2 separate regions of the Homo sapiens genome follow, and region 2 is linked to region 1. Evidence: fine-mapped expression QTL. Tissue or cell type: CD8 T cells. Region 1 holds a variant in brackets; the other region holds the start of a gene. All regions are shown on one strand. Distances are between the middles of the regions.

Region 1 (8,094 bases):
ATATCATATCTATGATTTTATAAATATTAAGTCAGAGTAAGAGTCTAAGTTTTTAAAAGAGTTGATTTAAAGTTGACATAAAGAAAAATAGTAAATAAAAGCAAGTATAGATAATATATAAAAGAAAAAATCTTCCCAAACTAGGAAATACTAGAACTATACAATGTTCATTACGTAAATTTTTATACTGAAAAAAAACAAAAACAAAACAAAAAAACCTCTTTGCTTGAAATGGCCTTGGATGAATTGACATCTATGCAGAAGGGAATTAGATAACCAATAACCATTAGGTCAGCTGGTAACAAGAAGATTTCAATTATCCAAACATTGACTTCTTTCTTCATAAAAATAGAAACTGCATTTCTAAGACATAGGAAGAAAGGACATTAGAAGACATATTGTGCATATGTGAAAAACATGTAATGCGAGTATGCTGTTAAAGGTAGACTTTCTACCCAGACAGGTGACTCTTAAGATTTTTTTTTTCATTTCATTATTCCAGGGATCACAAGAGATTCTACGATTTTTAAAAGAGAATTTATGGAGTTTCTAATAGACTGCTAACCTGACTCTGGAAGACATAAGAAGTAGAAATGACTGATTGCTCCATTCCTGCAACTGCTCTAACCCAATAAGTGCCTAAGATGTGCTTATGACATTGTTTACTGGGAGCCTGTGATGGGGAGGGTGCTTCTTTGTTTACGGAGGGAGGGTTCCCACCTGAGGCCTGGGGAGGCTCCAGAGGAGCCTTGGTGGTCAGAAAAGGTAAAACCACTCTCTGCCAAGCCAATGAGGAAGGCCCTAGGGGCTCACTGCTTTCGACCCAGACCTTTGGTCTTGGCTCAGTTTAGGAACCAGCATTTGAGAAGAGCACATCCATTTTTAGGAAATTAGGCAGGTTATAAGCTGCGGCAAAGGAAACCAGACAGACATCGCACATAAATGCAGTTAAACCAGCACTTCAGGGCCAATGGGGTTTTCTCATGACCTGATAAATCTGTACTTTGAAAGCTGGCCTTTATTTTTATATTCAGTGTGAATCATTTTGGTTTTCTTTCTTCTTTAATACTTATTAGGGTTCTTGTTGAAAATGCCAGCCTGTCACTGTGCTAAGGGGAACAAAAAGAGAGAGGGGTGTGAAGAGAATTCCCCTGAGGCCAAATCTATCATCCACATCAACTGTACTGGGTTGCTTCTGTTCTGTTCTTCAACTTCGCAAAACCCAAGTGGTCTGGTTGTAGCCTTCTACCCCAATCAAATGCACCAGGAGGAAAATTCAAAGCTTCTTCTAAATACCACGATGCCACGTTTTATCCACACTTGAACCAGAATTTGAAAGGAGAAACAGTTTTATTCGTTAGGAATTAAGTATAGTGAAGCCATAGGAATCAAGGGAAGCTACCTCCACATTATCTGAAGAGTCTCCTTCTAGATGGCCGGGGACTAAGGGTGAGGCAGGGAGGCACCATGGCTGCAGAAGTTAAGGAGACATTCATTCTCACAGTCCTGCAAAGGCCTCCTTAAATTTTGAGTCCTGGCTTGCCTCACCCTAAGTCCCTCCCTGCTTCTATCTCCTGGAAATCTGGAGTTCACATTTTGTTTTAATGAGAGAGGTCACGCCCTTACAAGAGTCCTGCCTTAATAAATGATGCTTGAAAAGTTACTGAGCTGGTTTAAAAAAAGTGGGAGTAAAAGAGTGCTTAAAAAGGAAATATACTAGATCTCAAAGAAATCAAACCTATAAAAAAAAGTCTGAGTAGGAATCTAAAGGTTATTTCCTTTTCTTTCTATTATTCCCCCCAAAATAACTCTATAATATGTAATACAAAGGCAATATGTAGTACAAAGATAACCTTAAGAAATGGTTTATTCTGTGTTTAAAATATGAGTTATTTAAATAAGTTATTTAAACAGAGAATAAACCATTTCTTAAGGTGTTTCTGGCATGCTCAGGTATACTTACTTTTCAGTTCAACTCTTTATCATCATAAACACAAGAAATGCATTAATTAATGCCCTTTGACCTGACCTTAAGCTAGGCACTTGTCCCTGCCATAAACATATTCTTAATAAAGACACTGACATGGATTTATATGCACAGATCACGAAGACAGGGCAGAAACATTTAATCAGATATGTAATAGAGAATGGAGTAACAGTTTATACCAGTCAAACACAAGTGCATGGAGTTAGTAGGAGAGACTGCTACTAGGCTGGAGTTAGAAGAACTAGATTCAAATCACTGGGTTATCACATATATAAATGTAGGAGTTACATTAAATAATCTCTAAGGTCCTTCCAAACTCTAAGAATCTGTGATTCTATTTTAAGATTAGGTAGCCAAGGAATGGGGGCCAGGGACTACCTACTTAGGGTGATGTTCAGATAGAACTGCTTCATCAAAGTGAGGAGACAAAGTTCTTGTTTTCTCCATTTGCCCTAACACTTGCTTACTCTACTTAAAACTACCAAGGCCAAACAATTGCTAGGTATTTAACCCAAGAACAGCTAAAACTGAATAAGGGTTGAAAAACATCATCTCTTGACATCACATTGTGTTATTTCATTCCTGCAGCCAATAATTTAGAAAACAAACAAATGTTTGTTTTCTAAATAATTGCATCTGTTTGATGCAAAATTATAAGCATCTGTTTGATGTAAAGCACTGTGCTATAGAGATTATACAAATGAACGAGCAATTGCTGTCTGAACTTAAAATCTGGTAAGTTGTCCTGCTCAATAAGGACACAGACAACCAAAATAAAACGGTAAAGATCCACAGGAGAGCTACAAAGCCCTACAAAGGAAGCATAGCTTCTGGCTTGGAATCCTGGCCCCCACTTAAAGGTATGTCACTCTAGAAGAGGTTAATTTTCCTTCAGTTTCCTCATCTATAAAATGATGATACTAATAGTACCTTATTCATAAGGTTGTTGAGAGGAGTCAATGAAAGAATAAAAGTGACTTAAAATCATCCCTGATACACAGTAAAAATCCAGTAAAAGTTAGTTATTGTCATTATCATGGGAATTCAGAGTGGTTGATTTGACTTAGGAAAAGGAAGATAACTTTCATAAGGATATAGTGTTAGAATTGGGTATTGAAAGATGGGTACATAGTTGGATAACTGGTACAGAAGAAAGGAAGAGGAAGGGGAAAAGAGAGGGATAAGAAGGAGAGAAATCCTTGTTATAGTAAGAAGTTCAATTTGGCTGGAGTACAAAGTTCCTTATTGGAAATGATGGCTTGAAAAGCAGTTTGCAGAAGCTAAATATAAATCACAACTTTTTTCTATTAGTTTCCCTTTATCCCCAGTCATGTTCTAGAAATTAGCATCATGCTTAAAAACGTATCAAATGTTATTATTCATGCACTCAGTATTAAAGCCTATATGAGTAGATAAGCCCAAGCATCTAAATCGAAAAACCTTATGTGTTTTTGCTGACTCTTTCTGGAAGCAATCTGTCAAGTCTGAAAAAAACACTAAGAATTCTTAAGTCTGAGAATCAGAAAACAAGTCCCAAGCCAGTTGAAAGTCACTTGACATCTCTGGGCTTCAATTTCCTCTTATGAAAACATATACTACTGTTACTTCAGGATAGATGGATAGAAGAAATACTGAGGTGGTAGGAGGGCCATTGTAGGAAGCGGAAAACTTGCTAACCTCTTTGGCTGATAACAAGACACAAATGCAACCATGGATGTGAAAGCACTTTACATATTTGTATTATGTAAAACATAGGATCTTTTTATTTTTGAAGTCATACCAACTTAGATCTGAATCCTACCTGATCCAGTCATTTGCTAGTTCTATGAACTTAAGAGAAAATAGCCAGAAACTGCTACACTCTTCACACTGTTGCTGGGCTTTCACCAAACAAGCAATGTGGATCCTGTAATGGCGTTTCCCCTCCCTGCATCAGTCACTCAGAAGCATATGAAGGTTCTAGTGACATACATTTCAGAAACTCTTGTTTTTAACTCTCATTTACCCTTCTTGGGCCATTTGATTTTGCACTTTATTTTTAAATGCCTCCAATCCCCACCCTCCACCCTTTTTTTTTTTTTTTTCACATGAGGCTGATCCTAAAAACTAATTAATCATAAACGTACCTCTTCCATCAGGCCTCCCTTTACTTCCCTAGGCAGAAGCTCTTGACTTTTTTGGTAAGCCCTGCTCTTTCTAAGTGTTCAACAAATGCTTCTTAAATTAATAATAACATTGAAGAGTCCACAACTTAACTGGCCAATATCAGAAACATTCAAATGCTGTTAGCTAAATCTGGACCCAATCAAAACTAAATTTTATTATGTGTTTTCAGGATGTTG[T/C]CTGATAACAGTAATATTTTTAATGTGTTGAGTGATATTTTTAATTTGTTAGGCACATCGCAATCTTTTACATTTATCTGCATATATATCATTTGGTCCTCACTGCATCCTTGTCAAGTTGTTTTGGCAGGCATTATTTTCTATTGTATCTGTGGGAACACAGACCCAGCAGGTCTGTGGTGGAAGAGCCAGTTAGAAACCAAGACCTCCACTTCCAACCCAGCTATCCTTTCATTCTAACACACTCCCTCTGGTAAATTCTAGAAACAGGCAGCAAAACAGCCAAAAACTAAAGCAGCTTACTTTTTCATATGTAATATGTAAATGAATAGCAATGGCAAATGACAATGGGAATGTCTATTAAGAAATATATAATAAGCCTGGCGCAGTGGCTCACTCCTGTAAATACCAGCACTTTGGGAGGCCGAGGCAGGCGGATCACTTGAGGTCAGGAGTTCGAGACCAGCCTGGCCAATATGGTGAAACCCCGTCTCTACTAAAAATACAAAAATTAGCCGGGCGTGGTGGCAGGCACGTGTAGTCCCAGCTATTCAGGAGGCTGAGGCAAGGGAATCGCTTGAACCCAGGAGGCAGAGGTTGCAGTGAGCCGAGATCACCACATTGCCCTCCAGCCTGGGTGACAGAGCGAGACTCTGTCTCAAAAAAAAAAAAAAGAAAAGAAATACATAATAAGCATACCAATCCATTGACAAGATATTTTAAAATGTAGGCTCGATCAAATTTTTGTTTTTAAAGGATGCATGAGCCTGGCCAACATGGTGAAACCTTGTATCTACTAAAAACACAAAAGTGAGTCGGCCGTGGTGGCACGCGCCTGTAATCCCAGCTACTTGGAAGGCTGAGGCAGAAGAATCGCTTGAACCCTGAAGGCGGAGGTTGCAGTGAGCCGAGATCGAGCCACGGCACGGCACTCCAGCCTGGGTGACAGAGTAAACCCCTGTCTCAAAAACAACAACAAAATGGATGCATGCATGGAGGGCATGAAATATTTCCACTGTATTTCTGTTAATCCAACCTCAACCTCCATGAGTCCTCCACAAGGCCTACACTCAAATGATTATAAAGGGACTTCACTATTTGGAGCAGAGAATAGAAAGTAATGTCACAGAATGTGCAATGTAATATTTATCCCACGTAGTATAAACTATAGATGGGAGTGAACTCCACTCTGCCCCCTATCCCTCCACACTCAGCCCAAAGGGTGCTTCTGATGAACAGCTATCCAAAGCCTATATTTACTCCTTATTTTGTACAAAGGTCAAATGTAATTATTGCTAATAAAATGTTGGGGTTTTTTTAATCCCTAGGTTGTGATGACAAAAAAATTATTGCCTTGATAACATTCCAGTTTGTTTTTCTTGAAAAAGTCGATGAAGCAAAGAGGAAGTTACCTCTTAACTCATCTTTGATCAGTGCTACCGGTCATTTCAAGATCACTAGCTCAACCTTCCAGAAACGAACGGTTACGAAAGTATTCAAAGGGCGTCTCGGGCTTGGCACAAGTCCCTGTGCCAGGCAGGACGGAGATGGGGGTGTTCAGTCCCCAGTGTGCAAAGCACCCGACCGCGGGTCCGTCTCACAGGTTGGCGCCGCATGGGATAGCGGCTGGGCAGGCGCCCTCCGGCCCGTCCGCGGCCGTGGGGAGGATCTGCGCGGACATAGGACCTGGGGCAGTGACCTTAACAGCCCCTCCGCTGCCCAGGGGAGGCTTGGGATGGTCACGGGATTGGGATAGTGGCGTGACAGTCTCCAGGCGGCCCAGGGCGGACACCGCCCGGGGCAGTGGCCAGTCCGCCCCTCCGGGGCCCGGGAGAGGCTCAGCCGCGCGTGGGTCCGCCCTTCCCCCGGCGCCTCCAGCGACCCGCCCGCAGCGCATCTGGGGCCCGGCTCGGGCGATCGGCCAGCCCTACCTCTTCGGTGGCCGTGGGACAGTAGGAGATGAGCACGAGCGTGGTGACCACGTTGACGGCGAGCCCCAGCAGGGTGATGGAGTTGGGGGCCATCCAGAGCGGGATCCACTGGAGCAGCCAGGTCCAGTAGAGCTGCAGCGGCGGCTCGAGCAGCGAGACGCCCGCCGCGCTGTAGCGGTGCTCCTCCAGTCGCCGCAGCTGCGCCGCGCTCAGCGGCTCGCTCAGCGCCCTCAGCCAGCGCGGCGCGGACCCGGCCCCGGCGCCTGCCGCCATGGCCGCCTGAGGGCCCCGCCGCCGCCACCGAGCGCAGCCCGCGCCTGGCGCTGGGGGCAGGGAGAGGTGGAGGGAGAGGCTGGCGGCCGGGTCCTGCGACTGCCGGGCTGGACTCACCGGTCGGGCCCGCACGGCGGAGGTCGAGGTCAGGCCGGCCTGCCCGGCTGCCGGGGCCCCAGCCCCAGAAGCTGTGGGGCCGCGGCTGCGGCTCGCGGGTGGGGCGGGGCCTCGGGGAGGGGTCCGGCTGGGGGCGGGGCGGAGGGGGTCCTGCTAGGGGCGGGGAGGCGGGTGCCGCGCTCGCGGGTCACCCTCGGCGCCCGCCAACGGCAACTTGTTATCGGCGATCAAGGTCCTTGACTCCCCAGGGGCCGGCTGCACTGCGCCTGAGGTCTGATGTCTTAACCCACGGCGTCGGATTACGCCCTGAGGTCGTCTCCTCGCGGGCTGCACCACGACCGAGCCGGTTCCTCTCCTAGGGGTCGGAACACGACTCCGGTCGCCCAGTGTTAGCCACTGCAGGACCACGCTGCCCGCAGAGCCTGGGGGTTTTCGTGTGAGAACACAGTTTTGCAGGGCTCGGGTCACGGGGGTGACGGCCCCATCTGTCCTGCTTGGTAAAACACACAAGCACAATTCTCCCTTTCTGTACGGAGGAAGGCGGCCCTGCCATGTATTCGCTCTAGAGACCCATCACTGCGGATTCAGAGACCAAGGTTTTGAAACTGAAAATCAGGGCTTAGAAACACTAACAAGGAGACCGAATGGCTGAAACCCCGATACCTATTTTCTTCAGCGCATTTGATACCAACAAGGGTGAATATTTTTACACATACTCTTCCCTGGAATAAAGGGCAGGAGTGTCCTCCCCCTGCAAGGGGGAACAGGCTGGCTTGCCACACGCATTGGTAGGTCACCGGCCCCTTATCTCACAGTGCACTCACTTGGACAGGGGACATCTGTCATAAACACGTTCTGTTGCACAACCTGAGACAGGCCTGTCACTTGCTTTGCTCTTCACTTCATGGCTCTGATCTGCACGCACTTTCTAAGGCCTAGGACAAGCCAGAAATTGCTTCCAAGACACTTGTGTGGCGCAACCTCTATCGGCAAGTGCAGTTTGCCTCACGGGCTTCGTCAAACACTTGGCACAGGGGTCCACGAACTGCTGCCTGTGTGCCAGACCCAGCCCACCACCTGTTTTCCTACAGCCCTCCAGCTAAGTATGGTTTTGACATTTTTAAATGATTGGAAAAAATCAAAAGAATACAATTTTGTGTTGTGAAATTATATGAAATTCAAAGTTCAGTGCCACGAATAAAGCCATGTTTATTCCTTACCTATTGTTTGGCTGCCTTCATGCTACAAGGGCAGCAGAATTCAGTTGTGACAGACCGTATGGCTGGCAAAGCCTGGACTATGTCCTACTAGGCCCTTTAAGGAAAAAACTGGCAACCACTGCCTTAGAGCAATGAGGGTCTCTACAGACCAAGCGTATATGTCTTAGGAATATGGATCTCCTCATCTTTAGTGTGAAAAACGATGCTGACAAATGCAGGAAAGG
Region 2 (8,090 bases), 130 kb before region 1:
CTTGCCTGGAACATAGTTCCCTTCCCACCCCACATCTTGAGTCCTCCAGCTCAATCTTTAGTATCACCTCCTCCAGGAAGCCATCCCTGACCTCCCAGGCTAGGTTAGTGCCCCTCACAATACTAATCCAATATATATATGCCCCTCCAGAGTGTAAATCCCACAAAAGCAGGGACCATGTCTTTCTTGGTACCCAAGTATTGGGGTACCTAAGTCATTACGAGATAGACTCAATGTCCAATAAAATGCCCAGCACAAAGCATTCATTCACAAATGCTGAATAAACACTAACCATTACTTAAACTTTTCTCATAGATTGAGCTCACCACTATATGCCATATTAGCCTACTGACTGTACTTGGAGGTACTGTTGCCTTCACTCTATCTCTCTGCTCTTACAGATATCTACATCATTGATGTGAAGATGATTACATTTTTGGAATTCATTTGACTTTTTTAAAAAATATTTTCTACATCATTTTTTTCTCTAGTTACTTCATGTTTGGGAGAAAGGCAGGAAAGGGACCTCTTTATTTATTTATTTATCTGCTATAGACTGAGAACCCAGATGACAGTTTCTCGGAATTATATTTATCAGATTTTGAGAGGGACTGTGGGGTTCTTCTAAAAGCAAAACTCAGGGGTTTCACTGGGTTCCTGGGAATCCTTTTTGATCTTTTGGCTTTTCTGGCTCTTTTAGGTTGCCAGATAAAATATTTCCAGATAAATGGGATGCTACTGCATATTTTTTCCACTGTTCAGATGTGGAGAGTTTAAAATCATTTCCAGGCCAGGTGAGGTGGCTCCCAGCATGTTGGGAGGCCAAAGTGGGAGGATTGCTTGAGCCCAGAAGTTCAACACCAGCCTGGGCAACATAGTGAGACCCTGTCTCTACAAAAAATTTAAAAAAATAATTTCCACAACTTATGCATTTACATACTACTAATGTTCTTGAAGTGCATATTTAATCAGTTAATTCTCCTGCTGAAAACCTCATTGCTTTCAGAACAAGGCTAAATGTTAATTTTCTTAAATTTTTCCAACACTAAAAATGTCGCAGGCACTTGAGCATTTTCATGTGTTATTTTACATAACCCTCCTAACTGTATAAGGTAGCTACTACAGGTATATCATATTGCACCCACATTTATTTTATTTAAGTTCAACCATACTGCCTGAGGAGGGGGAAAAGGGAGTGAACAAGAGCAAGTTCTCTAGAAGAAAGGACTTAGACAATGCTCCTGACCTCCCTTGAGGCTGTCTAGTTGGAGCCTAAAGATAAAGGAAAAATTTAAGGGTAATTCATACTACAACAAAGCATACTTTTTAAGAAGGACAGGTTCTAGGCAAGGCTAGGACTAAAGTGAGGACAGTGAAGCACTTGTCTTGGGTGGAAAATCCGAGGGAACTCCAAAAAACTCACTAATCAAGAGGAATAATATTTTAATGCTATATATATATATTTTTTTTTTTTTTTTTATTAGATGGAGTTTCACTCTTGTTGCCCAGGCTGGAGTGCAATGGCACGATCTCGGCTGACCGCAACCTCTGCCTCCCGGGTTCAAGTGATTCTCCTGCCTCAGCTTCCTGAGTAGCTGGGATTACAGGCATGTGCCACCATGCCCTGCTAATTTTGTATTTTTAGTAGAGATGGGGTTTCTCCATGTTGGTCAGGCTGGTCTCAGACTCCTGACCTCAGGTGATCCACTCGCCTCAGCCTCCCAAAGTGCTGGGATTATAGGCGTGAGCCACCGTGCCCAGCCTAATGCAATATTTTTAAAAAATCAAAATTAATGGTTGGGCGCAGTGGCTCATGCTTGTAATCCTAGCACTTTGGGAGGTCAAGGCAGGTGAATCACTTGAGGTCAGGAGTTCAAGACCAGCCTGACCAAGATGCTGAAACCCCATCTCTACTAAAAATGCAAAAATTAGCCGGGGGTGGTGGCATGTGCCTGTAATCCCAGCTACTCAGGAGGCTGAGTCAGGAGAATTGCTTGAAGCCAGGAGGCGGATGTTGCAGTGAGCTGAGATCACGCCACTGCAACCCAGCCTGGGCAACAGAGCAAGACTCTGTCTCAAAAAAAAAAAAAAAACCCAAAAAACAAAAAAAACAAAAAACATTACTGAAGAATATCCATGAAAAGCAAAACACCCAAACTTTATGTTTTATTTTACGTTTTAAATTTTTTTTTTATTTTAATAGGAACAGGGTCTGTTACCCAGGCTGGTCTCAAACTTCTGGGCTCCCAGACTCCTGGGCTCAAGCTATCCTCCCACATTGACCTCCCAAAGTATTGGGATTACATGCATGAGCCACCACACCCAGCCCCGATATCAAAACTATAAACAAAGACAGAATCTCACTCCAAACTTGCATGACTCATTTCACAGTACCTTCCCCTAATCTTGGCCCTGTTCTACAGCCTAAGTACCTGGTTCAAATCTCAATTCTGTCATTTACTATTTGTGTGATGTTAGATAGTTACTTTTTTTCATCACAGTTTCTTGATCTGTAGAATGGGGATAATAATGGTATCTCCATTATAAGATTATTGTGAGGATTAGATGAGCTGGGCACATGGCAGATGCTACATAAATGTTGGCCATTATCCTGAGAGTCCTGTTGAGTGGCAGATGTTTTTATATCTGTTACCATGCTTTTTTACCCCTTCTGATTAAGTCCTCAGATCTGTTATCATGCTTGAAAAGACCTCAGAACTATATGTGTCTTGTACAACTGCAATAATCTTTTGCCATGTACATATAGCATATATCAATCATCTTTTTTAAAAGAAGGATTAAAAGAAGTGACTGCAAAGTGTAAAAAATCTTGCCTTGGATTGGAGTGAAGCTAACCCCTTTTGCAAGTCTGTTAATTCCACCTGACCATCAAACTGAGGGTGCGAATTTGAGTATTTCCTGAAGCTGGTTCCCAAGATATTTTTAAAAATGCTTTGAATGATGGCAACATTAGATAAGTGTATTGTTTCCCAGGGTGACTAGGAAAAAAATCTTATTGACTAGGGTGCATTGGGATTAAGAAAAAGATCTCCCTTTCGTAAATCAGAGGCACCAAGGAAAGGATCTCGTGGGAAAAACCTGCTGTCAAAGTCGGATTACCTGGCCACCCCTGAGCTGGTTCCCCTCCAGTTCATCGCATGATTTCTATCATAACAACTCTTGTATTTAGTGGTTTACATGTTTATCTCCCCCACTAGACTCTCTGAGAACAGTAGCCAGGTCTAGTTCATTTTTGAATACCTGACACCAAGCACTATGCCACCTAACAGGCACAAATTACATATTTAACGACTAAATGAATGAACGAAATTCGGTTTTGGCAGATTTAACCCAAAGGTTTCCTCTTTCAAACAATATAGTTGGGGGTTGGAGGAAAGGAGCCACATACAGCATCTCCTTTTAGCACTCTGCAGAGAATGCTAAGTGCAGAGAAGGTTTTATGCACAAAAATATTCATGGCATTATAGTACCGTCTATGGCACAGTCTCGACGCAGGGGGCAGTTTTCTCTTGGTCGCCTGCCCAACCGGGTAAGTGGATCCCAGCTCAGCTCCGCCCCTCCCAGCCCAGCCCTCAGGGCCCGCTGCGCAAGCGCAGGTGGGGAGGGCGCGCACCTTCCCTATGCCCCTCCGTCCTCCAGGTGGCGCTGGAGACCCCGCCGCCGCCGCAGCCGCCTCTCGCCCGGCCAGACCCGGGCGGCGCCGGCCGCCTCGCCGGCCGCAGGTCCGCCTCCGCCGCGCCGAGGGCGTGGGCTCCCGGCTCCCGGAAGCGGCGGCCGCGGCGCGGAGCCGAGCGGGCGTCCGTCGCCGGAGCTGCAATGAGCGGCGCCCGGAGGCTGTGACCTGCGCGCGGCGGCCCGACCGGGGCCCCTGAATGGCGGCTCGCTGAGGCGGCGGCGGCGGCGGCGGCGGCTCAGGCTCCTCGGGGCGTGGCGTGGCGGTGAAGGGGTGATGCTGTTCAAGCTCCTGCAGAGACAGACCTATACCTGCCTGTCCCACAGGTATGGGCTCTACGTGTGCTTCTTGGGCGTCGTTGTCACCATCGTCTCCGCCTTCCAGTTCGGAGAGGTGAGTAGCGGCGCCGCAGCCTGGACCGGGCGCCTCGACCCTGCACTGCCCTCGCCGTGCCCCGCGATGCCCCGATACAGTATGTATTTTTTCATTATTAGAGACGGGGTTTTGCCATGTTGCCCAGGCTGGTCTCGAACTCCTGAGCTCAGGCGATCGCCCTGTCTCGGCGTCCCCGAGTGCTGGGATTACAGGCGTGAGCCACCGCTCCCGGCCAAATACAGTATTCTTTATCATAAACGTGTGCAGAGACTATGAGCAAGTCAGAACTGGAAAAAGGCATGTATGTGATTTTAGATATTGCTCCCTCGCCCACCGTTTTTTAAAAATAGAGACGGAGGTCTCCCTATGTTGCCCAGGTTGGTCTGGAAGTCCTGGGCTCAAGTGATCCTCCCTTCTTGGCTTTCTAAAGTGCTGGGGTTACAGGCATGAGCTACCGCACCTGGCCCAAGAAAGCCACTTTTAGCAACGGGGAGGAAAGCTGTATTTTTAAGTGGTTTGAAATCTGTTCCTTAGTTTTAGTTTTTTTCTTTTTCTTTTTTTTTTTTTTTTTTGGTAGGAGGTTACAAAAGGTTTTAAAATTTAACAGAGTAGTTTTTAGAAATGCCACAGTATACATTTGCTTGAAGTCTTTACCCATGCTGGATTGTAAGCTCCGTAAGAGAAGGTGCTGTCTGTAAATACTGTAACCCTGGCCCAAGCACAGTGCCAGGTACTGCCAGAGAATGCAGTGCAAGTGTTTGTTTAATGGCTAAATTATATGGCATGAATTCTGAGCATGTACTTTTTTAGTAGTTCTTGGTTCTAGAGGCTGGGAAAAAATGTCTTACCATAAGGGTGAGAAAGCTCCAGATTTGTAAGTGTGAAATATGTACTTAATATTATAGTACTTGCTCGTCTTTGTTTCATGTGTTGCAACTTAATGTATCTGTGTGTAGTTAGGTGCCTTATTGCTTTTGTGTGATTTTTTTGGCCTTGATTAATTTTGAGTTAACTGTTTATTAAGTCCCATGCAGTGTGAAGATGACTTAAAGGCATCAGGTGTTAGAATTCTTCATTTTATTTTATTTTTTTGAGACAGAGTCTTGCTCTGTTGCCCAGGCTGGAATGCAGTGGCTCCATCTCGGCTCATTGCAACCTCTACCTCTCAGGTTCAAGAAATTCTCCTACCTCAGCCTCCTGAGTAGCTGGGACTACAGGCGCGTACCACCATGCACAGCTAATTTTTGTATTTTTAGTAGAGATGGAGTTTCACTATGTTGGCCAGGCTGGTCTCAAACTTCTGACCTCAAGTGATCTGCCTGCCTTGGCCTCCCAAAGTGTTGGGATTACAGGTGTAAGCCACCGCACCTGGCCCGAATTTTTCATTTTATATCCTTTTCTTTTTGCTTTCATTCCATGCTTGGCTGTTTACCAAAAGAGAGACATTTTGTTGCAGTCCTGAAATGGCCACAGATCATAAGGTTTGGAACAGACAAGAGAAATGAGAGGCAGACAGTGCCAACAGGTGTCATGAGAGGTGAAGGCAGCTGGCCTGTGGTTAACTTGTAAGGCATAATGGAAAAGAGGAGCTGCATGATTAGGCAGATTTGGCCTTGATTGCTGACTCCAGTTGATAATGATCATAATAATAGCTAATACTTATATTGGTCTTAACAGGTATCAGGCACTCTCTTAATTGCTTTACATATGTTAACTGATTTAATCCTCACAACATCACCCCTGTGGGATAGGTGCTATTATTATAACCATTTTATAGGTGATGAAATGGATGCATTTGCATTAGAATCCAGCTAATTTGTGGCAGAGCTGGGCTTCAAACCAAGCCAGGCTGGCTCAGAGCTGTGCTTTTTTTTTTGTTTGTTTTTTGAGATGGAGTCTCACACTGTCACCCAAGCTGGAGTGCAATGGCGCAATCTCGGCTCACTGCAACCTCTGCCTCCTGGGTTCACGTGATTCTCATGTCTCGCCTCCTGGGTTCACGTGATTCTCATGTCTCAGCCTCCCAAGTAGCTGGGATTACAGGTGCGTGCCACCACACCTGGCTAATTTTTTGTATTTTTAGTAGAGATGGGGTTTCACTATGTTGGCCAGACTGGTCTCGAACTCCTGACCTCATGATTCGCTTGCTTTGGTCTCCCATGGGATTACAGGCGTGAGCCACCACGACCAGCCTAAGCTGTGCTCTTGAGCACCCCTTTTTATGGTTTCTCAAACAGCCCAGGCTGTTCCTTGTCTGATCTTGGGAAGGATATTTAACCTCTCTGAGCTTCCTTATCTTTGAAATGGAGGCCAGATTACCTTCCTTGCAGGGTTGATGAGGATTAAATAAGATGGGTATGTAAAGCACCTCACACAGTTCCTACTACATAACAGACCCTCATTAAATGGTCATGGCTACTGCTGCTATTATATTATCAACTCTTTTATGTCCTTAAACCTTATTTTGAAATATATCCTTGAATCAGAATACTTTGATCATATAGTTAATATTACCAACTTGTTAATAATCTCACTAATTGTAATGGATTGTAAGCTCACTAATTGTAAGTCCTTTTGGACTAAGAAGATCATTGTTTTTTTTGTTTTGTTTTGAGATAGAGTCTCACTCTTGCCCACGCTGGAGTGCAGTGGGGTGATCTCAGCTCACTGCAACCTCCACCTTCCAGGTTCAAGTAATTTTCCCTGCCCCACCCTCCGGAGTAGCTGGGATTATAGGCACCCGCCATCACGCTAGACTAAGTTTTTGTATTTTTAGTAGAGACAGGGTTTCACCATGTTGGCCAGGCTGGTCTCAAACTCTGGACCTTAGGTGATCCGCCTGCCTTGGCCTCCCAAAATGCTGGGATTATAGGTGCGAGCCACTGTGCCTGGCCCTCAGAAGATCATTGTTAACTGTAAATTTGTTATCGTCTCCTCCTCTCAATATAACAGGTATTTGATGCTGTATTTTGATAAGCCTTTTCTATATTCATCCAAACTTCGAGAAGTAGAATTGAGGGAAGGAAGTATCAAACAAAACAAGCTGGGTGAGGTGGCTCATGCCTGTAATCCCAGGACTTTGGGAGACTAAGGCTGGAGGATTGCTTGAAGTCAGGAGTTGGACAAGCCTGGGAAACAAAGGAGACCCTGTCTCTACAAAAAAAAATAAAAATAAAGGCTGGGCGTGGTGGCTCACACCTGTAATCCCAGCACTTTGGCAGGCCGAGGCAGGAGAATTGCTTGAGCTCAGGAGTTTGAGACCAGCCTGGGCAACATGGCGAAACCCTATCTCTGCAAAAAAAGTAGAGTAGTCCCAGTTGCTTGGGAGACTGGGGTGGGAGGATCACTTGAGCCCTGGTGGTTGAGGCTGCATGAGCCGTGATTGCACCACTGCACTTAAGCCTGGGTGACAGAGTGAAACCTTGTCTCAAAAATAAATACATAAATAAAAAAAGTTAGCTAGGTGTGGTGGCACATGCCTGTAGTCCCAGCTGCTCAGGAGGCAGGAGGCTGTGGCAGGAGTGTTGCTTGAGCCCAGGAGTTTGAGGTGCAGTGCCTGTGATTGTGCCATGCACTCCAGCCTGGTAGACCTGGTCTCAAAAAAAAAAAAAAAAAAAAAAAAAAAACAACTCCCACAGGGAGAGCCTTCAGAATGGGGACTAGTGGTCACAAAAATGCATTGCCTTGGACTGTAGGTAGCAGGTAATCAGTCTATTGTAAATTAGTTAGCTCCACAAATGGTGTTACTAGATTGACTGCTCTTAAGATCCTTTTTAGCTTAGAAACTTCTGGTTTTTAAATAATTTGTTCTCTGTTAGTTGCTACTGTATAGATTTTAAAACGTGTTTTTGAGTTAAAATTTATTATTTCAGGGCCATCATTATTTAATCGAACCATTTATATACAAGTCCACAATTCTTCACACTCAGGAAAATACAGACTATACCTAGCCTCAAGTCAGTTTAGTCATTTTGCCACCAAATAAGTACAGGGCAGGTCAAGTTTAGTTGCCAAATAAGGT

What was found. PIP is the estimated chance that this variant, and not a neighbour inherited with it, causes the effect.
Region 2: it holds the start of GNPTAB, and the variant in region 1 is fine-mapped to the expression of GNPTAB in CD8 T cells (CEDAR, PIP 0.95).

What each region holds. Positions count from the first base shown.
Region 1 is chr12:101,696,301-101,704,394 of GRCh38, reverse strand. CHPT1 (choline phosphotransferase 1) reads right to left here and starts at 6,755. Exons shown (of 9, transcript NM_020244.3): 1 at 6,261-6,755. The coding sequence starts at 6,533. RefSeq lists silencers at 6,022-6,211, 6,472-6,811 and an enhancer at 7,032-7,281. The variant T/C (reference allele first, on the strand shown) is at 4,330.
Region 2 is chr12:101,826,556-101,834,645 of GRCh38, reverse strand. It overlaps GNPTAB (N-acetylglucosamine-1-phosphate transferase subunits alpha and beta), which reads left to right and starts at 3,687. Exons shown (of 21, transcript NM_024312.5): 1 at 3,687-4,087. The coding sequence starts at 3,971. RefSeq lists silencers at 3,505-3,904, 4,261-4,555.